6 separate regions of the Homo sapiens genome follow, and all the other regions are reported to be linked to region 3. The links are microRNA targets in miRTarBase. Many come from high-throughput screens and were not tested one by one. Region 3 holds a microRNA gene; each other region holds the end of a gene's coding sequence.
What was found. Region 3 holds the annotated microRNA hsa-miR-431-5p (UGUCUUGCAGGCCGUCAUGCA, at 1,963-1,983, opposite strand). A microRNA usually pairs through its seed, bases 2 to 8, with sites in the 3' UTR of a target mRNA and lowers its output. Matches are read on the target gene's strand: a 7mer-m8 pairs with bases 2 to 8, a 7mer-A1 pairs with bases 2 to 7 and ends in A, and an 8mer does both.

Region 1: the mRNA of ZNF485 is a reported target of hsa-miR-431-5p. Seed matches in the 3' UTR shown: 7mer-m8 at 2,103-2,109.
Region 2: the mRNA of IKBIP is a reported target of hsa-miR-431-5p. The part of its 3' UTR that is shown has no 7-base or 8-base seed match.
Region 4: miRTarBase lists TMEM184C as a target of hsa-miR-431-5p. Seed matches in the 3' UTR shown: 7mer-A1 at 4,770-4,776.
Region 5: miRTarBase lists TMC5 as a target of hsa-miR-431-5p. Seed matches in the 3' UTR shown: 7mer-A1 at 2,357-2,363.
Region 6: miRTarBase lists NXPE3 as a target of hsa-miR-431-5p. Seed matches in the 3' UTR shown: 7mer-m8 at 2,606-2,612.

What each region holds. Positions count from the first base shown.
Region 1 is chr10:43,614,776-43,619,860 of GRCh38, reverse strand. It overlaps ZNF485 (zinc finger protein 485), which reads right to left. Exons shown (of 5, transcript NM_145312.4): 5 at 1,957-3,570. The coding sequence ends at 2,492. Among named protein-coding and RNA genes, the nearest start is that of ZNF485, 11 kb to the right of the region's middle.
Region 2 is chr12:98,623,429-98,626,428 of GRCh38, forward strand. IKBIP (IKBKB interacting protein) reads right to left here. Exons shown (of 3, transcript NM_153687.4): 3 at 821-3,000. The coding sequence ends at 2,502. Among named protein-coding and RNA genes, the nearest start is that of IKBIP, 20 kb to the right of the region's middle.
Region 3 is chr14:100,877,560-100,883,008 of GRCh38, reverse strand. MIR431 (microRNA 431) reads right to left here and starts at 2,002; the gene lies at 1,889-2,002. It overlaps RTL1 (retrotransposon Gag like 1), which reads left to right. Exons shown (of 4, transcript NM_001134888.3): 4 at 1-3,256. The coding sequence ends at 2,297. It overlaps MIR433 (microRNA 433), which reads right to left and starts at 1,123; the gene lies at 1,031-1,123. It overlaps MIR127 (microRNA 127), which reads right to left and starts at 30; the gene lies at 1-30.
Region 4 is chr4:147,631,474-147,636,876 of GRCh38, forward strand. TMEM184C (transmembrane protein 184C) reads left to right here. Exons shown (of 10, transcript NM_018241.3): 7 at 1-32; 8 at 1,430-1,529; 9 at 2,292-2,463; 10 at 2,696-5,248. The coding sequence ends at 2,961. Among named protein-coding and RNA genes, the nearest start is that of TMEM184C, 17 kb to the left of the region's middle.
Region 5 is chr16:19,495,813-19,501,261 of GRCh38, forward strand. TMC5 (transmembrane channel like 5) reads left to right here. Exons shown (of 22, transcript NM_001261841.2): 21 at 1,309-1,351; 22 at 2,108-3,301. The coding sequence ends at 2,154. It also overlaps the pseudogene RNU4-46P. Among named protein-coding and RNA genes, the nearest start is that of TMC5-AS1, 11 kb to the left of the region's middle. RefSeq lists a silencer at 698-909.
Region 6 is chr3:101,821,481-101,826,479 of GRCh38, forward strand. It overlaps NXPE3 (neurexophilin and PC-esterase domain family member 3), which reads left to right. Exons shown (of 8, transcript NM_145037.4): 8 at 1-4,999. The coding sequence ends at 474. Among named protein-coding and RNA genes, the nearest start is that of NFKBIZ, 26 kb to the right of the region's middle.

The DNA.
Region 1 (5,085 bases), not on the chromosome of region 3:
TTCTGAATCCTTGACTCACAAAATCTGTGAACACAAATACTGGCAACTAAGTGTGTGACGGTTTATTATACATCTGTAGTAACTGGGATGCTAGCCTATGAGAGTTTCATAACTTATTTAAACATTTCCCTACTTAGATATTTCTCCCACCTCTTTCCAGGATATTAGTATAACCAATGACGATGAGCAATACAAGCTCTGTAAGTTAGTCAAATTATTTCCTTAAATGTTTGAGGGTGGCATTTCTGGGTCAATTAGAACATACATTTACATTTACATTCATGTTGCCAAACTGTTATCCAAAGCAGCTTAACCAGTTCTTACCAACAATCATCTATGTGTGTGCAGCCGTGCTTCTTTTGATTAAATCTGGCCCTCTGCAATCATCAGTTGAATACTTAGATCCTTTCTTTTCTATTTTATAACATTCCTAAGTTTGCTTTATTGCTTTTACATTGTGAACTATATCCATGATATATTTTTATCACAAAATATTCAGGCAATGCATTGACTATACAAAAGAAGTACTATACCATTATTCTTTACTTTGGATCTTTTTCAACTTAATGTCATAGACAACTTTGCCTGTCAGCTCATAAAAGTCTAACTCACCAAATGTTAATTAATTAAAGGACTGTCTTTTAATTAAATGTTGAGTGACTACATGGTAGTCCAAAGACTGCATGTATCTTCAACATTCCTCTGATGACAGATATTACAGTGATTCCACCTCTTCATTACTACAATGCTGTAAAGACCACCTTTACTTTTTAATTAGATTTTAAGTAGAAATGTTAGGTCAAAAGGTCAAAGTTGGTAGGCATAATCATTTATATTTCTTTTTCTGACAACTGTACATTCACATCCAAGACCATTTCTCCACTGGAATTTTTATATTTATGTATTTTAAGGACTCTCTAAATAGTCTAAGTGTTACCTGTTAAATATGATGATGGTAATATTTTCTCCAAGTCCAGCCCTTTGTATTTTAATACTACGAAGCCTCTAGTTGCAGAAACTAAAAGCTTTTAGTTTCTGTGTGGCATTTGTCTTATTTTTATGACTTCTGAGTTTTCTTATATAGGAAGATAACTATACTAAGTTACAGAAGATACATGAATGATGCTTGATTAAATATTTCATTTCAAAGAACTCAGTCAAAGTCATAATTTCACTTCATCATACCAATATAGGTCGAGTATCCCTTGTCTGAAATGCGTGAGACCAGAAGTATTTAGGATTTCAGACTTTTTTGGACTTTGCAATATTTGCATGCAAATAATAAGGAATCTTGGGGGTGCATTTTTTTTTTTTTTTTTTTTTTTGAGACGGAGTCTCGCTCTGTCGCCCAGGCCGGACTGCGGACTGCAGTGGTGCAATCTCGGCTCACTGCAAGCTCCGCTTCCCAGGTTCACGCCATTCTCCTGCCTCAGCCTCCTGAGTAGCTGGGACTACAGGCGCCCGCCACCGCGCCCGGCTAATTTTTTGTATTTTTAGTAGAGACGGGGTTTCACCTTGTTAGCCAGGATGGTCTCGATCTCCTGACCTCATGATCCACCCGCCTCGGCCTCCCAAAGTGCTGGGATTACAGGCGTGAGCCACCGCGCCCGGCCGGGGGTGCATTTTAACTGCAACCCATCACATAAGGTCTGGTGTAGAATTTTGTACCTGTTGGTGCTCAGACAAATTTTGGATTTTGGAGCACTTCAGATTTCAGATTTTCCAGTTATGGATGCTCAACCTATACTACATCCTCATCAAAGATAACTGCTGTTAGCTGAGTGTGGTGGTACGTGCCTGTAGCCCCAGCTACTCCAGAGACTGAAGTGGGAAGGTTGTTCAAGCCCAAGTTCAAAACTACAGTGAGCTATGATCACATGGCACTCCAGCCTGGGTGACAGAGTAAGAGCTAGTTTCTTTTAAAAAAAAAAAAAAAGAGAGAGAGAGAGAGATAACTGCTGTTAAGATTGGTCTTTATTTGTCCAGGTCTTTTTGAATGCATATAATATAGATTTCCTGAAACTTGCTTCTTTAACAAGGGTATATTGGGTATATTATCATGGGTATATTTCTACTGTTGTATTTTTTTACTTAGAGATGGAGTCTTGCTATGTTGCCCAGGCTGGAGTGCAGTGGCTATTCACATGCACAATCATAGTGCATTACAGACTCAAACTCCTGGGCTTAAGCAATCCTGTCTCAGCCTCCCAAGTAACTGGGACTACAGGCATATGCCACCATGCCTGGCTTTGTACAGTATTTACAGCTCCACCTCATTCTTTTCAATTAGCACACAGTATGCTATAACTACTTCCATACTGACATACATTTAGTTTCTTCAAATATTTCACTAGTAGAACCTCACAATGAATATCCTCACAAGTGATGTGTTCTCTCAGAAGTACAGAGTATTTCTGTTAAATGCATAATTTATTTAATGTCTCCTCTATGATGGTCAGAAGGAATAAACTACTCTGCACAATTTGCCACACTAACTACATTTCATGGCTCTTTCTTTATTATGAATTTTCTTATGTTGCTTAAGGGCTGAACTTCGGGGAAAAGCTTTCCCACATTCATTACATTTATAAGGTTTTTCCCCAGTATGGAGTCTCTGATGTTCAACAAGGCCTGAGCTGTGCCGAAAGGCTTTCCCACATTTCTTACAGTGATAGGGTTTTTCTCCAGTATGAATTCTCTGATGTCCAGTAAGGGTTGAGCTCTTTGTAAAGGCCTTCCCACAGTCACGACACTGATACGGTTTATTTCCACTGTGAGTTTTCTGATGACCAGCAAAGGATGAGCTATACCTGAAAGATTTTCCACATTTACTGCAGTGATAGGGTTTCTCCCCAGTATGCATTCTTTGGTGACTAATAAGAGTTGAGCTCTTCCTAAAGGCTTTTCCACATTCATTACACTGATATGGCTTCTCACCAGTATGGATTTTCTGATGTTCCAACACAGTTGAATTATCCCTGAAAGCTCTCCCACACTTGTTACATTTAAAAGGCTTCTCTCCACTATGTATTCTTTCATGACGAGTAAGAGCTGCATTCTGAGCGAAGGCTTTCCCACAGTCATTACATTTGTAGGGTTTCTGGCCAGTATGAATTCTCTGATGACTTAAAAGGATTGAGTTCTTTCTGAAAGTTTTTCCACATTCAATGCATTTGTGGGGTTTCTCCCTAGAATGAATTCTCTGATGGTTGATAAACGTTGAGTGCTTCTTCAGGAACTTCCCACATTCAATACATCTATAAGGCTGTTTGCCTGCATGAACCTTATGGTGATTTAAAAGGGATGAACTGTTCATAAAGGCGATCCCACATTCTTTACATTTATGTGGTTTCTCACTGGTGTGATTTCTCTGGTGGCTAATAAAGGACGAATTGTATTTGAAGACTTTCCCACATTCCTTGCACTTATAGTTCTTCTCTGTGGAGCTTCTGCCCTCCCAGTCCAGGCCTTTTTCCATCATGACACTTTTCGTTCGCTCTCCCAGAACAGATGCTTCAGAAGTGCTTTGCTTTAGGGCTGACATCTTTGTTTCAAACCAGTAATCCTCGACTGAAAGAAAATTTTAAAAATTCAAATGTTCTTTATGTTGAAATGCTGAAAGTGAGAGTTGTGCAAGGACTTGAATAATGTTCTATTCTACATAACTAAAGGTTATGAAAAATTATTAATGTGTCCCACTTGTGATTCTTGCTGAGAAAAGATGGCCAGACTAAGGGCAGGAAAAGGAAGTATGATTTTAAAGAAAAGAAAAGAATCTGTACTATAAACATTGCATTTAAAGAATGCAGTGAGCCCCTAAGAAGTTGCCAAGTTAGGAAGACAACACAGGAAACAGCTAAAAAAGAAAAAAGACAATGTGAGAATAAATACAAAATTGAGGAGAAAGCCCAGAGTCACAAAGCAAGCTATAATTACTACTAGGGCAGATTTCTGCAGGTGGTATATTTGAGAACATTATGATGTCACCAAGAACTTGAGAAAAATAGTTCTCTGTGAGGATTTAAGAGTGAACCAATATTTAATTGCTCAGTGGAAAAAAGAAAACAGAAAAAATATTCAAGGAACAAAAATAGTTCTCAGGCCAATAAGATTTTACTATAAACTAAATTTTTAACATATCTAAAAAACAACATACCTATGCCAGGCACGGTGGCTCATGCCTGTAATCCCAGCACTTTGGGAGGCCGAGACGGGTGGATTACTTGAGGTCAGGAGTTCGAGCCCAGCCTGGCCAACATGGCAAAACCCTGTCTCTACTAAAAATGCAAAAACTAGCCAGGCATGGTAGCACATGCCTTTAATCCCAGCTACTCGGGAGGCTGAGGCAGGAGAATCGCTTGAACCCGGGAGGCAGAAGTTGCAGTGAGCTGAGATCATGCCACTGCACTCCAGCCTAGGTGACAGAGCAAGACTCTGTCTCAAAAAACAAAAAAAAAATTACCAATCAATGGGTGTACTATGTGAATTTTCTCTAGCTTTTTACAAAGTACAGACACAAGACCTAAGACAGACAGAGCGAAATGATTCAGACAAAAACGTTCTGAAAAACTAATAGAGCCAAACTTGTAGTAAAATTAACAATCACCAACCAATTATTTTACTAAATGCGCTTTTCTTATAAACATAAGTTGTATCTATCTATACCTAAAGATATATACACATACATATATTTATATGTATTTATACTTAGTAGTCTGGGGAGAAATTCCATGCAATGGATATTAGAGCTAAGACTTATTTTTTCAAGGAAATGTAAGTTGAAGGTGAAGCCCAGTCAGAAACAGCCCACATTCTTCCAATGGCCTTTGATGGGATATGTGTTTAATGTATTATGATCAAACTAGAGAAAATTTCAAGATACTGATTGTAAAGCTGGCAACGTGAAGACACATATGGGCACTTCTTCTATGACAAAGGTGGTCTTGCAAAGCAGTGAGGAAGAGGAGATTCTGCATTAGTACATTTTAGGAGAAAAAAAATATATAAACCCTAACTCATATGATGCACAGAAATCCATTCTAAGAGGATGGTAAATGTAAACATAAAAACCAAATAATAAAGCTT
Region 2 (3,000 bases), not on the chromosome of region 3:
GACATGAGGTCTCACCATGTTATCCAGGCTGGTCTTGAACTCCTGAGCTCAAGCGATCCTCCCACCTCAGCTTCCCAGAGTGTTGGAATTATAGGAGTGAGCCATTGTGCCTGGCCTTACTCCTCCTTACACTTTTTTTTTTTTTTTTTTTTTTTTTGTAGGGACGAGGTCTCACTATGTTACCCAGGCTGTCTCAAACTCCTGGGCTTAAGCCACTCTGCCTCAGCCTCCCAAAGTATTGGGATTACAAGTATGAGGCACTGTGCCTGGCCACTTTATAAGAAATTAATTGACATAAAATTTATTATCAGTTACAAAGATACAAAAATGTGTTTTAGGATATTGGTAATTTTCCCTAAAGAAAAGACTAACAATGTAATTTAATATTTGATACACAGGAAAGTTTTTGAAATTTTAAGCATCTGTGTTAAATAAATGAATGGAAGAAAGAGAGAAAGACAAATTAAGTACATCTAAATCTCTCTAATAATTTCTTAATAGGAAAACCTCTTCATAAATACAGGATATATCTATCTAGATATCTATACATACATACAAACGCATATATACTTTAATAGTTTTCTCATGTTATACTTGTAGAAGTGCAGTTTTCTTCCTTTCCCTTGTGTCATTATAGAGAACAGTAGCCACCTTGTTTCCATTTACTTTCAGTAACCATTACCATGGTATATATAAGTTCATAATAACCTCATATTAAATGTGGTGATCGGTGAGAAAAAAATATTTAAACGTAAAGGATATAAGATAAGAGATCACATTTGCCTTGACAGGATGGAGGTTAAAACAACAAAGTTCCAGCTTACTTTATAATCTATTTTATTACCATTAATATAAAAGTAAACAAATAGAATTTTGTCAGTGCACGCAAATAAGAGACATTCAGAAGTCAAGAAGTGTAATTTTAAGACTGCAAAAATTAATGCTATGCCCCTTAATAACAGAACTCTCCAGGCTTATTTTCATGATTCACGCTGTCTACCACAGGCCCTCCTAACTCCAGTGGAGAAGGAGTTTGGGGGTTCTCCAAAAACTTGCAAATTTACATATTAAAACTACTTGACCACAACTACCTTTTTGTAACTGACTGCTTTCAAGTTCTTTGTGTTTAATTCCATCAAAAACTGCATTATAAAACTGGTAAGGTTATTGACAAAGAAACAAGAACAAACTTCCATATTGCAGTTGACTACATTATATAATTTCAAATAAAATAAAATCAATTCATAAAACAAATTTAGTGGTGTGGTTTGGGAAATCTTTAAAATGACGTATTTTTAACTATCATAGTTATTATCATAATTAATTATCAGAGTTATGTTACTTTTCCCTCAAAACAGGCCACAGGCTTATTTTTATTTATTTATTTATTTATTGAGACAGAGTCTCACTTTGCCACTCAGGCTGGAGTGCAGTGGCGCGATCTCGGCTCACTGCAAGCTCTGCCTCCCGGGTTCACACCATTCTCCTGCCTCAGCCTCCTGAGTAGCTGGGACTACAGGCACCCACCACCACGCCTGGCTAATTTTTTGTATTTTTTAGTAGAGACAGGGTTTCACCCTGTTAGCCAGATGGTCTTGATCTCCTGACTTCGTGATCTGCCCACCTCGGCCTCCCAAAGTGCTAGGATTACAGGTGTGAGCCACTGCGCCTGGCCTATTTAAGTAAACCATCTAGAGACCATGGATCTAGCAAACTCATGTCTAACACAGTTGGAACCTAAAACTCAGGTATATAAAGATATTTCAAAGATTTATATACACATAATTCCTAAGAAAGGCCTTATGTAAGAACATACTTACTCTGATTTTAAAAGTCTTACAAGTATCTGTAACACAGTTTAGAACCTTAACAAAAACTAAAATGTTTCCCAGGCTTTAGAGTTTTCAGAAAGTGCATATTAATTCATAGCAAAGGCACCAGGCTCTCCCTCAGGCATGTTATCTTTTATTTTACACAAAATTCCCATGAACTTGGTTGTGTGGATTCTTAACCTGCAGTGAATTACCTAAGAAAGTGAACTGGCTGAGGCAGGCACATTACCAACCAACCTGACAGTAAGTTCAGGTGACAGAAAAGGTATGAGACATAGGTTTGAAAATGGCAAATTGGGGTCATTTAGTGAAGTGGTAAATACTCTTTATTAGCCCCTGGAGACATCAATATATGTGGGTACAATATAATAGGTGAAATTAATGATGATGTTCATTAATGCTTTAAAAAACATTAAAAATATTAAGTATCTTGTTTTAAAAGTAGAGAAATATTTTTAAAGAACTATTTCTATTTCAAATAGTTACAATGAAGTAAGTTTTAGTGCTTAAAAAGATAAGCTTTGATTATGTGGATAATCCATTTGTGTGGACATCTCATTTATTTTCCAATAATGTAGGATAAGATGAGGCGTATCAAAGTAACTCAAAATCAATGGACTAATCAATTTATGTATAATGATATGGTTCATCAGAATAAATGTCATGAATTTAAAAATCACCACCAATTCCTTTATTTTCTATATTATATTCTTTTAAAGTTCCCTTTTCTCCTGTACTTGAGTATGCTATAAAATCATGAACTTTTTCTTTTAGAATATCCAGTTCATTTTGCATCTTTAATATGCTATTATCATACTGAATTCCTTCAAGGGTTTTCTGCATCTCCATTATTTCAGACACTGCTTTCAGCATATCATCTTCCATATTAAACATCTGCATAGTCAAGTCTTCCATTTTCTTTTCTGTTTCTATCAGATCCTGAGAGACTCTGAGAACAGAGTGAATAGCACTTTCAATTGTTGGCAAATGTGTCTTGCATTCTTCAACTTTGGGTTCGTAGTCGGAAAGTTTATTAGTCAGATCTTCATCTCTGGCAAAGAGGGCATGCTGTTCCTCTTCTAACTTTTCAATTGCCTTTGTATCAGAGCCTAGCTGCTCCTCTACTCGCAGGAGATCTTCTTCTTCTTGTCTTTTTACTGTTCTAATA
Region 3 (5,449 bases):
AGCTTCAGCAGGCTGGAGACAGTGATCACAGCGAGACCTTTTACGAGTGTCCCTCCACCGCGCCTTGGGAACCTGTGGGTGCCAGGATGCAAGAAAGAGCCAGGCTACAGGAGGAATACTGGGACCTGCAGGACATGCTGACCAACAGACAGGACTACATACAGATGATTCCGGAACTGTTTGACCAGTTACACGGAGCCGAGTGGTTCACAAAACTGGAGCTGCGTGGGACCATTGTGGAGGAAAGCGTGAACGGGCACCGCACCGAAGATGTGTGGAAAGCAGCGTTTGGTTTGGAGCTTGAAGAGATGAAGAGCTACCAGCCGTTTGCGCTCTCCCCAGACCCTATCATACCTCAGAACGTGATTCACTTCATCCTAAAGGACATGCTAGGGTTCTTTGTGCTTTCTTATGGCCAGGAAGTCCTGATCTACTCAATGAGTCAGGAGGAGCACCTCCACCACGTCCGCCAAGTCCTGGTCCGCTTCCGCCATCACAACGTCTACTGCTCCCTGGACAAGAGCCAGTTCCACCGCCAAACCGTGGAATTCCTGGGCTTCGTCGTCACCCCCAAAGGGGTGAAACTGAACAAGAACGTCATGACCATCATAACAGGGTACCCTACCCCTGGCTCCAAGCTATCTCTGCGAAACTTCATCGAATTCGTCTTCCCCTACCGCCACTTCGTGGAGCGCTTCAGCATCATCGCAGAGCCCCTGGTGCGGCAGCTGCTGAGCTCCTACCAGTTCTACTGGGGAGTCGAGGAGCAAGAGGCCTTCGAGTGCCTGAAGAGGGCTTTCCGCAAGGCGCCTCTCCTCCACCACCCCAAGCCCCAGAACCCATTCTACTTGGAAACCGGCGTCACCGGCACGGCCCTGCACGCCTCCCTGATCCAAATCGACGACCAAACCGGCAAGAGAGCCTGCTGCGCTTTCTACTCCCGCAACATCTCCCCTATCGAGGTTGAGTACTCTCAAGCGGAGATGAAGATTCTTCCAATACGGGCTGCCTTCATGGTGTGGTGCCGCTACCTGGAGAACACCGAGGAGCCCATCATGATCCTTCTCAACACAGAGGATCTAGCCTCTCTGAATAATGACAGGCTCACCGTACTTCTCCCCGGGCATTGGGTCTTCTTCTTCTCCCACTTCAACTTTGACGTCATGGAGCTGCCAGAACAAGACGGCGGCCGAGCTCTGCCACCTGTGAGAAACCTCCGGTGGAGGAGAGCCTTCCAGAGGAACACTGCCGCCAGGCAAACCCTGCTGCTGGCCTCAAGGGGATTCCCCAGGGATCCATCGACGGAATCCGGGGAAGAAGAGAATGAAGAACAGGATGAGCTCAATGAACAGATCCTACGGCAAGAGCTGCTGGCCATGATACCCATCGACCAGATCCTCAACAGCTTCCTCGCCCACTTCAGCATGGCCCAGATCAGGGCCGTCATTCTGCACTTCTTCCGAGGCCTCCTGTACTGGAAGAACACCCTAGCCCTGGCAGCCATCCTCGTGCTACTGCGCGTGAGGCAATGCCTCTCGCTGCGGCCGGCACCCGCCATGCGGGTGGCTCGGCCCCAGCCCCAGCGCTCCCTACGACTCATCCTGGATTCGTCCCTCATCGCAGGCAGCAGCATCACGACAGCCATCACCCAGCTGCTCACCCAGATGCCCGCTCTCGTAGGTGCAAACACCATCCCAGCCCAGGAGCTGGCTGAGCTGTTCCTGGGCCCTGGCCGCTGGCAGCGAAATGCTCTGCACTCCCAGGCCCACCGAGGCCTGCAGTTCACCCCTGGCTTCTGGCTGACGCTGTGTGAGTTCTTCGGTGTCAGAGTCACCCCCCAGGAGGGCCACCTCCCTGCCCTGCGTCAGAACCGCTACCTGGAGCTGCACGTCGTTGGTGATGAGGATGTCGTCTTGCGAGAAGCCCTGCAAGACGACCTGCAACGTTACCGTCAGTGTGGCCTGCATGACGGCCTGCAAGACACCTCGCAGGACAAGCAGGACAACGACGTGCAGGAGGCCCCACCCAGCCACACAGCAGCCACCCACCCACCCCGCCCACGCCACCTGATGGATCCCCAGGTCCTGGAATTCCTTGGTAGCCGCCTGCTCCACATCCACAGTGCAGATGGCCAGCTGCACCTGCTCAGCCGGGAGCAGGCAGCCAGGGCCCTGAGCCAGTTCCTGACCCTGATCTACAGGCGGGCCCTGCCCATCCCCGCCTGGGAGAGCCAGCCCAGGGAGCAGGCAAGGCTAGAAGAGCTGCCTGATGAGGACGAAGATGCTAACCTCGACTGAAGACGCCTCCCTGTCTCCAGCAAAGAGTCCCCTCTATTTCTCACCCCAACACCTCCCGACGTCCCCTGGCCTCCCCGCGCCTCAGCCTGCTTCGCTTCCCTTCCTGCCACTCCTGACCCAAGAGGAACCCACTTGTGAAGGGCAACAACTTCTTCAACTCATCAACCAGCAATGCCACCTGTGCTAACGGACTACCCAGTCCTCAGAGACCCAGCGCCAGCCCTGGGCTACGAGTTCTCCGTTCTCCAGGTCCCAAGCCCATGCCCGGGAGTGACATCCATGAGGGAGAAAGCAGTGGTGAGCAGGAAGTGACCCCATGACGCGTGGCCAGATGAAGAAGCAGGCACAGCAGGCGCAGCCAAGCAAGCAGGTGACGGGGCCCCCCACCCGGCCTGGTGATGGCCACCCTGGGACACTGACCTCGGGTGCTCCACTGACTTCTTCTACCTCCACTGCCGGTGCTCCTGCTCCCCTGAGCTCCCGCCCCCGCCCCCCAACCCCCATCCCCCAACCTCCCGACATCTGATGATGTGGTGCCTCCCTCACCCCCATCACACCCTGCAAGCAAACCCACCCCCACCCCCACCACATCTGCTTCAGCTTTTTTGACCCCGCCTTCCTCTTGCCCTGAGCTCTGGACTTACCTGGACAAAGCCGCTCTTTGGGGCATCCGGACGTACCAGTGCCACTTACCAGACTTGCACAGCAAAGAGGGCCCCTGCATGCCTTGGGGCGCCTTTCCCTCCCAACACTGAACACTGGACAGTGCAGGGGTGCAGGGGCCCCTCATACAGGGATGGAGTCCCAGAAGGCACACAGACACCCAGGGGACCATGCCGAGTCACAGAGAGGCTCTGGCCACACCACCGCTTTGCAAGGGGAGTAGACCCTTCCCCACCCCCCGAGCTTTCTCACCCCCCAATCTTTTTGCACTCCTCAAATAAAGCAAACTAAAAGACTGTCTGACTTTGGGGTTTGTTCTAAAAGTGGAGGTGGTGGGAGGATAGGCGGGGGAGGGGACACGCATGGGAGGAGGGAGGGAGTAGGTGGGGTGGACGAGGGGGCAAGTGGACTGGGCAGGAAGGGTGGGGGCAGGAAACGCTCTGCCCTGAAACAGCCCCTGGGGGCCTGGCACATGGGCAGCAGGCCTCCCCCAACCTTCCTGAAGGCGTCCCCACCAAGACTCTGGGCACTTCTTTCTGCCATGAGAAGGCACCCACCCCCACTGAGGCCACCAGGGACGTGCACCCCCCACAGGCTCATGTCAAAGAGAGGACAGAAGAGGTGCCTTAGGGCAGTGGGAGGCGGGGGAGTGGGGGCTGTCTCTCCTAAGGGTTCCAGAAAAGGGAGCCCCGAAACCCAGTTCCCACCTCTGGCCTTGGCCTCCTCGCCATGTGATTAACGAGGTGCGGTCTGAGCCCCACACTGCAGGGTCCACAAGCCCTGGTCTCAAGCAGTCCCTAACCCCCACTCCGAGAGGAAAAGTCCTGGGTCCCATTTCAGAGGGTCATGCTGTCCCCAAAGTGGCAAAATGGCTGTTGTGAGGGTGAGGGTGCACTGCCCTGGGTAGGGGAGCTGCCAGGGGTCCCACAGGGAGTTGGGGAGGTAGGGCAGGTGGCACTCACCCACTCTGAGTTCCCCCTCCACAGTCCAGGACATGCTGACCCCTCTTCCTGGCCATGGGTCACACCTATCCAGGAGTGGCCTCCAACCTCCCAGAGCACCCCCGCCCCACTGCACCCCTCCACAGGTGAGAGCTCTGCGAGGACACAGAGGGGAAGGAGCCGTGGGCCTCTCTCAGCATGACCTTGAACTTCATCTAGGAGGGCAAAAACACTGGAGCTCTGTGCACACGGGCCCCCATGCCAGGACACACCAGCTCTGCCCTCTCTGCCCTGCTGAGGAACCTGCTCCTGAAGACACACCGTGAGACCACCCAACAGATCTCAGGCTCAAAGCTCAGGGGCCCCGCAGGGGTCTGACTAGCCTGAGTTGGAGCCACCCCATCCCCTAGGAAAGCCATTTCCACCTGGCCCCAGAGTTCTCAGCTCCCACATGGAAGAGACCCTACTGTGTCCTCGAGGGGAGGCACGGGAGCATGACAGCCTCCAGACAGTGTGGCTCTGCCTCCTGCTCCTACCCATCGTGGACCAGGACCACTGGGCACACAGTGGGGAGCCCCTGACCAAGGACACACCCCACGGGAGCCCAAGGCTGGCACTGCAAGCTCAGCCTCCTTCCTTCCCTGCACTGCCCAGCCCCACACAGGGCTCACGATGCCCTCACAAGTCCCCAGGGGTGCCTGGCCTTCACCCACCATCCACCTGTCTGAAGAATCTACCCCTGATAGCAGCACCAGGAGATCATGGTCAGGATCTCCAGGTTCAAAGGCAGGGGCTACACCTCTGGGCTTCTCTCTCCCTCCACTGGCTGGCTGCAGGAAGGCCTCTCCCAGCCTCAGTTTCCTCATCTGTCACTCCAACCCACCAAGGCTGCTGTGAGGATTCAGAGTTAGGAATAAACTGCTGGGCACAGCTGGCACTCAGAGCTCCCAGCCCCATCCACAGACTTCTCATGTCAATTTCCCAAGGTAAACTTGGGGAAATCAAGGCCCAGAACCGGCTGCAGAGGAGCTGAGGACAGAGCCAGGATGGAGGCCCCTTCCTGGTGGCTGATCTTTGTCCTCTCACCTGGGCCACTTCACCCACTCTGCCTCCAGTCACAAGGCCCAGCAATGACCTCCACAACAACCAACATCACAGCAGCTCCAGGAGCTCAAGGGCACCATGTCTGTCTGTCCGTTCACCTAGCACTCTGCCTCTGATGGCAGCCCAAGACAGGCTGCCATGGGTTAAGGCCAGGGGCTCAGCTGCAAGAGGTGCAGATCCCCTTTAGTGACCTGGCCCCAGAAGGCCCCAACTTTGACTTGCTGGGTGACCTCAGGTAGTGGCTGTCCATCTTCCAGCCTGTTTTCCCATCATCAAATGGGGGATGTAGTGAGAGGGAGGGTCATTTCCAGAATAACCAGACCCAGTCTCCAAGGGCCGCTGGCTCCTAAAACCCCCTCTGTTCCCAGATGACATTCTTCTTGGGGCTCCCAAGTCCCTTGAAGTAAACTACCTTGGGATAGAGCCTGGGGTCATAATGGAGGG
Region 4 (5,403 bases), not on the chromosome of region 3:
TGTGTAAAGCTGGTGGTTTTTGTTTCTTTTTGGTAAGTGTTACTTTTTTTTAAATGTTCTCATTTTTTTAAGGGCAGTAAAAACCGTTGATTAAGGAGGATTTTTAAACAGTCTTAATGCGGAAGATAGATTAAAATGTCTCTACTTCTCTTTTTAAAAGTTCATCTTTTTAGCCCTTCTACAATTTTCAAAAGAAATAATTAGATGGTCGCTGTAACATTTATATGAAGAAAATAGTTTGAGACAACCTAAATATGTCAATACTAGAATAATTATTAAAATAAATCATGGCCCTGTCATATAATAGAATACTATGGAGTTTGGAAGAAAGCATGATGTAGAATATTTAATTATATGGGAAAATAATCAGTAAATCTTTTTAAAACAGAAGGTAAAACTATACATAGTTCAATATAGTAAAGAGGGCCGGGCACAGTGGCTCACGCCTGTAATCCCAGCACTTTGGGAGGCCAAGACAGGTGGATCACCTGAGGTTGGGAGTTCCAGACTAGCCTGGCCAACATGGCTAGTCTCTACTAAAAATACAAAAATCAGCCAGGCATGGTAGCAGGCACCTGTAATCCAAGCTACTTGGCAGGGAAGGCAGGAGAATTACCTGAACCCAGAAGGCAGAGGTTGCGGTGAGCCAAAATCATGCCACTGCACTCCAGCCTGGGCACCAGAGTGAAACTCTGTCTCAAAAAAAAAAAAAAAAAGAATTTAGTAAAGAGGTGGGTAATAGGGGTCCTAGAAACAAATACACCAAATTTAACAAGCTAGAAACAATACAAAAAGGGAAAAAGAAAAATCCCTGAAATCCCACCACCCAGAAAAGAATGATTAACATCTTGGTAAACCTGTGTCACATATAAAACTCCAGAGAAAGTTTCATACTATAAAAATTTTTGGAATTCGACAATGTTCAGTAGTATATTGTAGATACAGTTCTTTGTCAGTAAACAGAAATATTATTTTGTTTTGTGGAGGGGGTGATTTTTATTTTTATTTTTATTTTGCTTAGTATTCTGTTATGTGGATATAACTTTTTACTAATCTCCTTTTGATATTCAGGTTGTTCCTAATTTTTTTACCATTATAAGAAACACTGAAGTGAATATTCTTATGTATACAACTATGAAAGCATGTCCATGTCATTATTTGCTGTTTAAATTTTACCTGGGGCCATTATCTCTAGATTTGCTTGAAATGCTCAGCTTGACTCCCTATCTTGAGACAAAACTACTAGAAAAATGAATTTGTAAAGCAAATTAATATATTTAACATAGAGTTTCTTCAGCAATATGCTGTAAAGGCAGGGTGGTGGTGGTACACAGGTTGCACTGGATTTTTTTTTAATGGCACATTTTTAAAACTACTGCTCATTTTATGCTTGATATAGATTTGGCGTTTACCTTTTCCTAACATATAGGCAAGCAGTAGTTATTGCTTTGTTGGTAAAAGTTGGCGTTATTTCTGAAAAGCATACGTGGGAATGGCAAACTGTAGAAGCTGTGGCCACCGGACTCCAGGTAAGTAGTGCCATCTCTGAATTCAATAGAACTTTACTATTTGTTAAGCATTTTTACATATCTCCACTAAACCTGACAACACACAGGGTATGGGGCTATTATCCTCACTTTACAGGTGAGAAAACAGGGGAACCCTAGAGAAATTGGCCATAATTACTAATTTGTAGCAGATCCATGAATAAAACCTGGATTTCATTATTCCTAAGTCCAATTCTCTTTCCACATTTCTCCTTGTAGTCCTTGGGTGGTGGAATGCAATATACTTGATGTGATTGAGAATGAAATGTACTTTGCTAAGAAATACTTGAGGCTGGCCTGGTGCAGTGACTCACGCCTGTAATCCTAGCACTTTGTAAGGCCAACGTTGGGGGATCACTGGACCAGGCATTCGAGATCAGCCTGGGCAACAAAGAGAGACCTCATCTCTACAAAAAACTAAAAAATAAAATACTTAGCCAGGCATGACAGCACATGCCTATACTCCTAGTTACTTGGGAGGCTGAAGTGGGAGGATTGCTTGAATGCAGGAGTTCAAGGCTGCTACTTGAGGAAGTGCAAAATAGATTCACATTTTGGCATTTTGTCTTTTTTTGAAGGGGTCAAAAATAATTATTTTAGAAAATGGAAAAATGAATATAATCTGAGAAGAAAAAACACAGCTGTTTATCTTAGCACTTTTGAAAAGCAAGTAGAGAAAGATAGCACTCTACAAACCTAGATTTAAATCCAAAGGTGGCTGTTATCTTATTGTTGTTCTCATAGGATTTTATTATCTGTATTGAGATGTTCCTCGCTGCCATTGCTCATCATTACACATTCTCATATAAACCATATGTCCAAGAAGCAGAAGAGGGCTCATGCTTTGATTCCTTTCTTGCCATGTGGGATGTCTCAGATATTAGAGATGATATTTCTGAACAAGTAAGGCATGTTGGTAAGTACCAGCTATTTAATTCAACCAAATAGGTTGGGTAGGATATTGAATTTCTCCTACTAGGGCAATTTATTATCTATTTAGAGATGAAAAAAGACTTTAAAGCAGTACCACAGTGCAGGCTCATCAACTTTGGGGAGTGGGAGAGGGGGAAGTGGGGAGCTTATTTTTAGAATGGTAAGTTTATAATGGTAAAAATAACTTTTGACTAACAGAAAACTTTATATTAAAGGACGGACAGTCAGGGGACATCCCAGGAAAAAATTGTTTCCCGAGGATCAAGATCAAAATGAACATACAAGTTTATTATCATCATCATCACAAGATGCAATTTCCATTGCTTCTTCTATGCCACCTTCACCCATGGGTCACTACCAAGGGTTTGGACACACTGTGACTCCCCAGACTACACCTACCACAGCTAAGATATCTGATGAAATCCTTAGTGATACTATAGGAGAGAAAAAAGAACCTTCAGATAAATCCGTGGATTCCTGAACAGTATGGAAAAGCAAACTGTGCAACTACTACATTATATCATTACCTGGTATCCCATGGATTTTGTGCTTGGGACAGACCATAAATGATGGAAAATGTCAACACAAAAATAGCTGAAAGCCAGGTACAACTACTGCATTTATATATGTAAGTTTTGTATATCAAAAATAATTGGTCTAAATTTCCTAGACTTAGACTTGATTTCTTAACATTAGGGTATCGCATACTCAAATGGTAGACAATGACCCCAACTAAATCTTCCTGATGTTACACTGCTTTATCAAGAGGATGGACTTTTTTTTTTTTGAGACAGACAGAGTCTTGCTCTGTCACCCAGGCTGGAGTGCAGTGGCGCAATCTCGGGTCACTGCAAGCTCTGCCTCCCAAGTTCATGCCATTCTCCTGCCTCAGCCTCCCAAGTAGCTGGGACTACAGGCACCTGCCACCATGCCCAGCTAATTTTTTTTTTTTCAGTAGAGACAGGGTCTCACCATGTTAGCCAGGATGGTCTTGATCTGACCTCGTGATCCGCCGACCTCGGCCTCCCAAAGTGCTGGAATTACAGGCGTGAGCCACTGCGCCTGGCCAAGAATGGACATTTTTTAAAAAAACATCAGTACTTCCTACCACTGCTGCATGAGTATAATGCTCCGGAATTATCAGAAAGCATAATGCAGAAATACGAATTAGTGGAACTTAATCATGTGCCATATAAGCTTACCTAACAAACAGTTATATCCCTATTCCTCAACTGAATGTCTTTCAATAAATAAGAATTTATCATTTATTTTCTGCAACTTTTTTATGTCTCATTCTTTAAACATTAAAAACCCTTAATATTTTAACAAAAATTTCTTGATTAGAGGCACAGTGAAAAAGAAGTCAAAAAAAAAAGTTCTACTTTTCATCAGTGCTATTAAAGGTGGCAGCAAATGTAAATCTTGGCTGAATGGTCTTAATTACTCATTAAACCACAGTCAGAAAGACATATAGGTGCTATTTGGGAAAACTTTTTATTACCTAGGATGGGGTTTCTCTAATTGCTAATCACAACCCCACTGGGTCATGTTTGACATTTTATAATGAAAATAAAACAGAAAGTGCCATAGTATGTTACAGAAAGCAAAGATGAGTATTGTTTCTCAAAGCCTTTGCTTTATGTATTTATACACATACTCATTCATATCTATCTATATATATAGAGAGAGATAGTGGTTCACAGTAATCATACAAAGTCTTTATTCCATCCACTATTATAAACATTTCTATTAAAACTAAAACTGGGCTCTATGTAAAAACCCCAAAGATACACACACAAAAAAAATCTGTTTGTTAGAACTCAAGTGAATTCAGTAAAGTTGCAGAATACAAAATCAACATACAAAAAGCATTAGCATTTTTATACATAAATAATGAAAATAATGACCTAACTGAAAAATTAAGATGCCATTTATGATAGCATAAAAAAAATACTTACTTAGGAATAAATTTAACACCAAGGCAGTAAAAGATCTGTATGTACACTGAAAACTATGAAACACTGATGAAAGAAAGACACAAATAAATGGAAAGGTATCCCGTGCTCATGGATCAGAATAATACTGTTAAAATGGTCACACTACCCAAAGCAATTCAGAATCAATGCAATCCTATCAAAATTCCAATGGCATTATTTACACAAACAGAAAAAAATCCTAAAATTCATATGTAACGATAAAAGACCCTGAATAGGCAAAAGAATACTGAGGAAAAAATGTTGGAGACATCACATTTCCTAATTATAAATTATACTACAAAACTATAGTAATCAAGACAGTATGGTACTGGTATAAAAACACATACACAGGCCAGTGGGACAGAAGAAAGAGTCCAGATATAAATCCAAACATACACAGTCAACTAATTTTTGACAAAGACACCAAGAAGACACATCGGGGAAAGAACAGTCTTCATTAAGTGTTCTTAATGAAGATGCTGGGAAAACTGCACTTCCACATGCAAAACAATGAAATCAGACCCTTATCTTAGACCTACACAACAATCAATTCAAAATGGATAAAAGACCTAAATGTAAGACCAGAAACTATAGAAGAGAACATAGGAGAAAAGTTCCTGGACACTGACCCTTGGCAATGATTTTTTGGATATCACACCAAAAGCTCAGTCAACAAAAACAAAAACAAATGTGACTACATCAAACCAAAAAGCTTCTGACAGTAAAAGAAACAGTCAACAAAATGAAACAGTAGCCTACAGATTGAGTAAAAAATATTTGTAAGGCATATATATGGAAAAGGGTTAGTATCCAAAATTTATAAAGAATTCATACAACTCAATTTTAAAAATGGGCAAGACCTGAAAAGACATTTCTCCGAAGACGACACACAGATGGCCAACAGGTATATAAAAGGGTGCTCAACATAATTAATCATCAAGGAAATG
Region 5 (5,449 bases), not on the chromosome of region 3:
TGGGAGACAGAACAAGACCCTCTCTCTAAAAAAAATTACCCTGGGCACAGTGGCTCCCTCCTGTGATCCCCAGCACTTTGGGAGGCCGAGGCGGGCTTATCACTTGAGGTCAGGGGTTCGAGACCAGCCCAGCAAACATGGTGAAACCCATCTCTAGTAAAAATATAAAAAACAAAAACAAACAAACAAGAAAACTTAGCTGGGTGTTGTGGTGCACATCTGTAATCCCAGCTACTTGGGAGGCTGAAGCACAGGAAATCACTTGGACCCAGGAGGTGGAGATTGCAGTGAGCCAAGGTCACACCATTGCACTCCAGCCTGGGCAACAGTGCAAGACTCCGTGTCAAAAAAAAAAAAAAATTAAAAAGTTATTTTTTGTGAATATTTCTGCCACAAAGCACGTACATGACAATGTTAATAGATATTGCTATATCATTCCCTTAAAAAGATTTAATCAATTTCATTCTTACCAAGAGAATATAAAGATACATGAAACCCTGCTCTAATTCCAAAGCCTTGCTTGCTTCCTGAGTGTCCTGAAAATACAGATGAACAGTAAATCCACCTTAACGCAAATACCACTTATGTTGGAAATTGTGATCTTGACAGAAGTGACTGACAAGTAATTTACCATCTGTGCAAATTTATACTGTCAGCACAATTTAGGTAAGGGATCTAGAGGCCTAAAGGTAGATTCTCTGAAGGTGAGGACCACGTCTGTGCACTTGTCACCCCACGTCCTAATTTATTACCTGGCATAATATGAATGCTCAGTGAATATCTGTGGAACGGCCAGGTGCGGTGGCTCACGCCTGTAATCCCAGCACTTTGGGAGGCCGAGGTGGACAGATCACTTGAGGTCAGGAGTTTGAGACCGGCCTGACCAACATGGTGAAACCCTGTCTCTACTAAAAATAAAAAAAAAAAATTAGCTGGGCGTGGTGGCAGGCACCTATAATCCCAGCTACTCCAGAGGCTGAGGCGGGAAAATCGCTGGAACCCGAGAGGCGGAGGTTGCAGTGAGCCGAGATCATGCCATTCCACTCCAGTCTAGGAGATAAAGCAAGACTCTGTCAAAAAAAAAAAAAAAAAAAAAAAAAAGAGTATCTGTGGAATGAATGAATGGAATCACTCTCCCTAAAAAACAAAACATGTTCAATATTTCTATGGCGGAGACTTGGCCTTAATCTCTCATCCCTTAACTTCTATAAAATGGTGAGGGGCTCACAAATTGTGCCAAATATGTGACAAGACCCAGAATCTGCATTCTTCCTCCGTGACGTGGCTGCTTGTTTTTTTCTTTTTCAGCAACAAGGCTTTTTGCATTTGGGGGAACATGATGGCAGTCTTGGTGAGTAATTAAACTGGGACAGAATAAGACACTAATTTATTTCTGGTGAAATATCCTAAGACAAGTGTAAGAATTGCTCATGTGTCCATTACTTTTTCAGTTGCAAATTGGATCCAAACTGGCTTAAACAAAATTCCAAGAATAATTCTTGCTTTAGGCCTTGCCTAACGCAGGAACTCACAGTGTCACCAGAACCCGGTTTCTTTCAGTTCCGTTCTTACCCATGTTAGTTCCTTTTGCAATAGACTCTGCCTAATAAGTGCAAGACAGCTTTATCAACTTCTTATATCTTCTCAGAGTCAGTCTGGTGGGAAAGACTGAGGGACCCAGGATTCTCACGGTGTTTCATAGGATCTGACTGGGTGATGTCCCCGTCTATGAACCAATTGTTGTGGGTGCAAAAATGTGGCAGTTCCCTTGATCACATGATTTCATCTGTAGATGCAGGTGGTGCAACCATGAAGACCATAGGGACCAAGAGTAGGGAAGGGTGACTTCCTAAAGAAAATCTGGGGCTGATGCCAGGAGAGCGAATTCTGGGCAGGAAACAAACAAGCAAACCCATTTATTTTTGGGGGATAGCATTTACTGATGACTTCCAGTGATGGGAGTTCAAGGGAAGGATTATAGAAACTAAAAGGAAGAGGCAAAGAAGGCATGAGAAGCTATGGAATCTTGAAGGCAAGCTGGTCTTTCCCTTGTAGAGATGGGGCAGAGTGTGCCTGCGTTAACTTCTCTTTCCTGTGTCAAACCTAGACTTGCGATCTAGAAGATCAGTTCAAGAAGGTAATCCAAGGGCCTGATGACTCTTTTGGTAACCAGACACCAATCAAATAAGGGGAGGAGACGAAAATGGAATGATTTCTTCCATGCCACCTGTGCCTTTAGGAACTGCCCAGAAGAAAATCCAAGGCTTTAGCCAGGAGCGGAAACTGACTACCATGTAATTATCAAAGTAAAATTGGGCATTCCATGCTATTTTTAATACCTGGATTGCTGATTTTTCAAGACAAAATACTTGGGGTTTTCCAATAAAGATTGTTGTAATATTGAAATGAGCCTACAAAAACCTAGGAAGAGATAACTAGGGAATAATGTATATTATCTTCAAGAAGTGTGTGCAGGAATGATTGGTTCTTAGAAATCTCTCCTGCCAGACTTCCCAGACCTGGCAAAGGTTTAGAAACTGTTGCTAAGAAAAGTGGTCCATCCTGAATAAACATGTAATACTCCAGCAGGGATATGAAGCCTCTGAATTGTAGAACCTGCATTTATTTGTGACTTTGAACTAAAGACATCCCCCATGTCCCAAAGGTGGAATACAACCAGAGGTCTCATCTCTGAACTTTCTTGCGTACTGATTACATGAGTCTTTGGAGTCGGGGATGGAGGAGGTTCTGCCCCTGTGAGGTGTTATACATGACCATCAAAGTCCTACGTCAAGCTAGCTTTGCAGTGGCAGTACCGTAGCCAATGAGATTTATCCGAGACGCGATTATTGCTAATTGGAAATTTTCCCAATACCCCACCGTGATGACTTGAAATATAATCAGCGCTGGCAATTTTTGACAGTCTCTACGGAGACTGAATAAGAAAAAAGAAAAGAAAAGAAATTAGCTGGGTGCGATGGCTTATGCCTGTAATCCCGGCACTTTGGGAGGCTGAGGCAAGCGGATCACTTAATGTCAGGAGTTCAAGACCAGCCTGGCCAACATGGTGAAACCCCGTCTCTACTAAAAATAAAAAAACTAGCTGGGCGTGGTGGTACATGCCTATAATCCCAGCTACTCGGGAGGCTGAGGCAGGAGAATTGCTTGAACCTGGGAGGCAGAGGTTGCAGTGAGGCGAGATTGTACCACTGCATTCCAGCCTGGGCAACAGTGAGACTCTGCCTCAAAAAAATAAATAAATAAATAAATAAAGTAAATTAAAAGTCTTATTCAAACCAAATATGAAACTGGTGGTGATGTGTGGAATGTGTGTGTGTGTGCACATATGTAATGAATACGTGTGTGTATAATGTTTTTGCAGGTTTGCCAAATGATTCACAAGCCACGTGGCTGTTCTTAACACTGAAAGGTCCAGCAGAAAGGTGCAGTTACTCAGGAGAGAGGAGCCTCCTCTTAAGTAATCACTCGCATAAAACCTAATTGGAACTGAATTTAGAAAGCAGTTAAGATACATTCGAAACACAAGCACCCAACCAGTGCTGTCATTTATTCCCTTTTTTTTTTATTTTTAAGAGATAAGGCTGGGCTGTGTTGCCAGCTTTGACTCAAACTCCTAGGTCAAGCAGTCCTCCCACTTCAGCCTGCCAAGTAGCTGGGACTACAGGCACACGCCACTGCACTTGACCACGCACTTTTTCATTCACTTATTTTTTTCATTAATTCACTTCATCGGAGGAATTAATTTCTTTTGGTGTCATCTTTGGTAACAGTTGTATGTAGTGTTCATCCATCCATTCATTCAACAAATATGGACCAAATAGTGGTGAGCAAGATGGTGAACAATTCATGGTGCTGCCTGTCTAGCAGGTTTAGACATGAATTTAATTCTTAAGCAATAATTAATTACAGTTGTAGTAGATGCTCTGAAGAAGCACAGGGACTAAGGGAGACTTGTCTGTGGGGTCAGTGCAGGCAACCCATGGAAGTGATGTTGGAAGTGATTTTATTCCCCTTGGGGTCATCTTAGTGCTGTTTGTGCTTTTTTCTTTGCTTTTTTTTGAGATGGAGTTGGAGCCTCCCTCTGTCTCCCAGGCTGGAGTGCAGTGGTACAATCTCAGCTCACTGCAACCTCCCCCTCCTGGGTTCAAGTGATTCTCCTGCCTCAGCCTCCCGAGTAGCTGCGATTACGGGAGCGTGCCACCAGGTCCGGCTAATTTTTGTATTTTTAGTAGAGACGGGGTTTCACCATGTTGGCTGGGCTGGTGTTGAACTCCTGACCTCAGATGATCCGCTCGCTTCAGCCTCCCAAAGTGTTGGGATTACAGGCGTGAGCCACCATGCCCGGCTGCTGCTTGGGCTTCTACAATGAAATCTGAACTCTCTCTGAAAGCATCACTTCTGCTCATTCACCAGATGCTAAGTGCTTCCATCTAGAATGCTTCTCCCTTCACCTCCATCCCTTGTCTCCACTTCAGTGCAGCCCTGCTTCTCCTGGAGGTGTACATGCAGTGGATAGTGGCTCATGCCTGTAATCCCCGCACTTTGGGAGGCTGAGGTGGGCGGATCACCTGAGGTCAGGAGTTCGAGACCAGCCCAGCCAACATGGTAAGACCTTATCTCTACTAAAAATACAAAAATTAGCCGGGCGTGGTGGCAAGCGCCTGTAATCCCAGCTACTCAGGAGGCTGAGGCAGGAGAATTGCTTGGACCCAGGAGGCAGAGGTTGCAGTGAGCTGAAATCGCACCACTGCGCTTCAGCCTGGGTGACAGAGTGAGACTGTCTCAAAAAATAAAGAAACTACTGTACATGGAAAGCATTTTAAACAGTCTAGGACATGGTAGGCAGTCAATAAATGTTAATTAGCAAGGATTTTACATGCACTCTTTCATTTAATCACTACCACCGCAAGAATACTACCCCTATTTTACAGATAAATTCAGTAACTTACCCAAGGTCATATAGCTGGTAAGTTGCTGAATAGGAAGGCAGACTTGGCTTTCTCTGATTCCAAATCCTGTTATTAACCCTATACTAAGCCTTCCAAGGAAGTGCTTAATAGTAGTTATTAATACCTTATTTCATCATTCAAATTCTCCACCTTTTGAGGCCCTGACCATCTTAGCATAGGACCTAAATCCTTAATTTGGCCTGGCTGAATCAAAGGTAAAATGGATTTGGGATAAAGATCAAGAGACAGAGATCTCATGGCTCTCCAGAGATCTTCCCACAACACAAAGGGATATTATTATTATTATGAAATTTTTAAAGATTGGAGTCAAACTCTGTCCCCTAGGCTGTAGTGCAGTGGCACGATCCTAGCTCACTGCAGCCTCAACCTGCTAGGCTCCAGTGATCCTCCCATCTCAGCCCCTATTTGTAAATTTTTTGTAGAGATGGGGTCTCACTATGTTGCCCAGGCTAGTGTTG
Region 6 (4,999 bases), not on the chromosome of region 3:
CTCAAATACCGCTGCCATGGTCCACCCATCCGCTTCACGACTGTCTTTAGCAATGAGCTCCATTATGTGGCGAATGAGCTGAATGGCATTGTGGGAGGGAAGAACACAGTGGTTGCCATAGCTGTATGGTCTCACTTCAGCACCTTCCCTTTGGAAGTGTACATCCGGCGGCTCAGGAACATCCGTCGAGCAGTGGTTCGGCTCCTCGATCGAAGCCCAAAGACCGTGGTGGTCATCCGGACGGCCAACGCCCAAGAGCTGGGACCTGAGGTGAGCCTTTTCAACAGCGACTGGTACAACTTTCAGCTGGACACCATCCTTCGGAGGATGTTCTCAGGGGTTGGAGTATATCTCGTCGATGCCTGGGAGATGACCCTGGCCCATTATCTACCGCACAAGCTGCATCCAGATGAAGTTATTGTGAAGAACCAGCTGGACATGTTCTTGTCCTTTGTGTGCCCCTTGGAAACCTAGCCTGTCTTGGAAGGGACTGGAGGAATCATATTCAATGACCTTCTCAATTGACCTGAGTTACAGAAAGTGGCCCCAGTGAGAGATGACTGCCCTTAATAAGTATAAAATTTCAAAAAGATCTGGACTTAATATGATGACTTATAAGGAGCTTAGAAAATGCAGGTTACATTTATATCTACCTATAGGATTTTATCCAATGTTGACTTAGCCATGGTAGAACTCTTAACTGCATCTACACACTATATTGCTCTTGTAACCAAAGATGCTAATGAGTGTATTTGAATTAGCTTCTCCTAGGAGGGGTGACTACTTTGCTAAAGAGTATGAAAAATGTTTTGATGGAAGGGACAAGTTTGGTTGGTAGTAGAGTGTTTGTAGCTTATCTGGTAAAGGAAATTGAGTGCATCTGCATGCATAGCACAAGTAATCCATCTTCTGGCGGTTAACTAGAGAAAGCTTATAGTCAGAGGCTCTTGTGAATGCACTGAAGACTGCTGTGTCTCAGGAGTTTCTCTTGATGATCTACCTTTTCTGAATTACTTGAAAAGGCCAATGTGCTTGGTTCGAGTTTTTTAGTGAATATTTACAATTTCCTGCTTTTATCTAGAAAAGAAGCAAAAGGGAAATATGAAAGCAGTATATATAAAATCTGTGCTTTGGAATTGATATTTGCATTTGGTGATTGTTTTTTATTTGATTCAGCTAAATTTTATGTGTTGAATACTTACTCTAGAATAACTACTTTTGGAACTGGAAGGGGGAAATCTGTAAATGGAAATTTATTTTTATGTTCTGAAATTTGAGGGTTTAGGAATTGACTTTTGTGTAAAGAATGCTACGATATTATAAAGCTGTGGAAGTTTTTTCCACTAGTTTCAGGTGTTTTTTTTTTTGTTGTTGTTGTTGTTATTTTGAACTACTTACCAAAATTAGAAGTTAAAATCTAATTAGAAATTAATAAGATACTAAAATTCATGACAGTTTTTTGTTTGTTTGTTTGTTTGTTTTTTGGTATTTCTTGATTTGGGCATAAAAGGCACACCCATTCTCTCATGCTTGGAAGAAGCTGCTATTCCTACTGGCTATCTAAGAAGAATGGAATTATTAATTTTATTTGACTTATTAATTTTAAACGAGTTTAATTTGGGATCATTTAGTAAGTACTCTTTTCTTTTTGAGCTGTGATAGATTATAGTCTAGTTTAAGTTGCTCCTAAGTAGACAGATGAAGAAACTAGGGAGGCTTTAGAGAGGAAGACAGATGCTTGAAGTATGAACAATATATACCCTTAGAAGAATGGGTCAAATAATTTGGGTTTTTAATTTAAAATAGGAGGGCCCCAGATCTTACTTTCCTGTCCTTGAGGAACACCTTCAAGTTTTTAAAGTATTTTAGGGGGAAAGAAGATTTTTAATTGTTTCTGAGCCTAATGAGGTAATAAAATATATTAAAATAGTTTAATTTTAATGGTCCTTACGCTTTACAGTACCTAAGGATCACTTGTAGTATCTGACAAAAATGCAGAATTAAAGAGTCATGGCAGGGTGTGGTAGCTCAAGCCTGTAATCCCAGCACTTTGGGAGGCCAGGCAGGAGGATTGCTTGAGGCCAGGAGTTTGAGACCAGCCTGGGCAACATAGTAAGACCTCATCTCTACAAAAAATAAAAAATTATCCAGGTGTGGGCCGACAGTCCCAGCTACTAGGGAGGCTAAGGCAGGGTGATTGATTGAGCCCAGTAGTTTGAGGCTGCAGTGAGTTATGATTGCGCCACTACACTCCCACTTGGGCAACAGACAAGAGATCTTATCTCTAAAAAATTTTTGTTAAATAATAAAAGAATTAAGGCCAGGGATGTTGGCTCACATCTGTAATCCCAGCAGGGATTATAGTCTCGGGAGGCTGAGGTGGGCGGATTGCTTGAGCCCGGAAGGTCAAGACCAGCCTGGGTGCCATGGTGAAACCCCATCTCTACAAAAAAATACAAAAACTAGCTGGGTGTGGTGGCACCACCTGTAGTCCCCGCTACTTAGGAGGCTGAGGTGGGAGGATTGCTTGAGCCCAGGAGGCAGAAGGTTGCAGAGGTTGCAGTGAGCCTTGATTGTGCCACTGTACTCCAGTCTGGGCAACAGGGCAAGACCCTGTCTCTAAAAAAAAAAAAAAAAAAAAAAGAGGGACCATGATGCCTCTGGGATTTATGAAACCAACCTTTGTGGCGAGTGCTCAGTGATTCTGATGCAATGGTGGTATTCCACACTGTGAGAAACACTAAGAGAAGAGGTAAGATAGAATGAGGGAATAAACATGGCTTGTTTATTATTTTGGGGGATTTACCAATAACTGGTTTAATTCTGTTCATGATCCAATAGTATTGGTGATATTAGCTCCATTTTATAGATGAGGAACTCATGTTTAGATCTGAAATAAGGTATGTGAGAGTCCATATCTCTTTTCAGCTAAACTTGTGAGACTTTCGTAAAGAAGCGTTTGTATTTATTTATTTGTTTTTGAGACAGGGTCTTGCTCTTTTGCCCAGGCTGGAGTGCAGTGGCATGATATGGCTCACTGCAGCCTTGACTTCCTGGGCTCAAGGGATCCTTCTGCCTCAGCCTCCTGAGTAGCTGGGACTACAGGTATGTACCACCATGCCCAGCTAATTTTTGTATCTTTTTGTAGAGACTACATTTTGCCATGTTGTCCAGGCTGGTCTTAAACTCCTGAGCTCAAGCATCTGCCCACCTCAGCTTCCCAAAGTGCTGGGATTACAGGTGTGAGCCACTGTGCCCAGCTGAGAGTTTTTCTTGTCGTGAAAGAACTTGACATTTCCTCAAGGATTTATAAAGGAGGCTGAGGAGTAATTTTCCCAGGAGAATTTTAAAAAGAAAGCGGGCATTGCTCCTCCAGTGGTTTGGAATGATGCCACTTGATTGTGCAAATGATTTCTTATGATCTTGTCTGGTTTTCTGTTATTTTTTGATTTGGTGACATAGCTCTCAAAGATTTGGTGACACAGCTTCTTGAGTCACTTTCATCTCTCTTAAAAAAATTTTTTTTTTAACAACTTTTAAGTTCAGGGGTACATGTGCCAGTTTGTTTCATAGGTAAACTTACGTCATGGGGGTTTGTTGTATAGATGATTTCATCACCCAGGTGTTAAGCCTAGTACCCATTAGTAATTTTTCCTGATCCTCTCCCTCCTCCTACCCTCCACCCTCCAATAGACCCCAGTGTGTGTTGTTGCCCTTTATGTGTCCATGTGTTCTCATCATTTAGCTCTCACTTATCAGTGAGAACAACTTTCATCCCACATCTAATTTGTCTTTCTTCACTCTGGTGTGGAAATTTTGATAGAGATTCCAATATCACTTAAACGTTTCCCAGAATATTTAGATAGAATAATTTAGTTTCTTCTGAAAAGTTTATTTTAGGCTAGTGCCACATGGTTGTGAATATTAGCATGGTAGCCAAATAATAGTTTGTTTAAATGTATATTTCCCAATATAAATATAAGGGGCATCATAATTTTTAAAAACTATAAAATCTAGAAGAAAAATCTATGGATAAAATCCATAATTCTATCATCTGAATGCAATGAACATTAGCATTTAGGTATATTTTCTTGCAGGTTTTTTAACCATATACTTATAGAGAATATGTAATTTGGGTCTGTGTTTTTTACATATAAATATTTTTCTATGTTAAATAGTCTTCATAAGTTAATTATAAAGATCTGCTTAATAGTTCTGCTACTGCAGTTTTCATTATTAGATAAGTTGGTCATTATAGTTGGACATTTAGGTTTACAATATTAAAGCAGTGGTTTATATCAATTTCAGTGGTTTAAAATATGAATTTCTATTTTGGAATGAAAGTATTAATTTAATGTAGTGAATCTCATATTCCAGAACTGAGATGATTGATTTGATGCTATTTGTGACAGACAGAACCCATAATAAAGCCTTTCTATGCAAGTTACATTTTATAGAATTATCCTACTAAAAGTAACCTTTCTTCAGCGAATGCAAAACAGACCTTTGGTGTTCCAGTATGATTCATTTTGCCATTCTGAACAACTATCATTTTAATTAAGACCATTTAACTGACACTTCCTGGATTCAGTTATTAAGTTTCAGATTGAAACTTGATCCAGTTTAATAACTGAATCCAGTTTCACATTTATCAATCTGAAAACTTAGTTTGCAGATTGGTAAATCAGGGTACTTGACAAGAATAAATATGGTACGCCTTTATATATTCATGTGTTACATGCCAGAAATGAGTCTGTTTCTGGACCCTGTTCAAGGAAATAGTGATGACTGAGAGAGGTACAGGGAAATAAACACCCAAGGGAAACAACAGAAATAAGCCTCCCCAACTTTCTAAAAAACTGCTCAGCATTATCTCTGTGGATTCTGGGTAAATTCAGCTTTTTAACATCAGCTAGTCACTAATGCCAGAAATTCCACTTCAAGTGTATTTATTTTCTTGTGTTAAGCATTATTCTACCTGGTTTATGTCTACAATGTA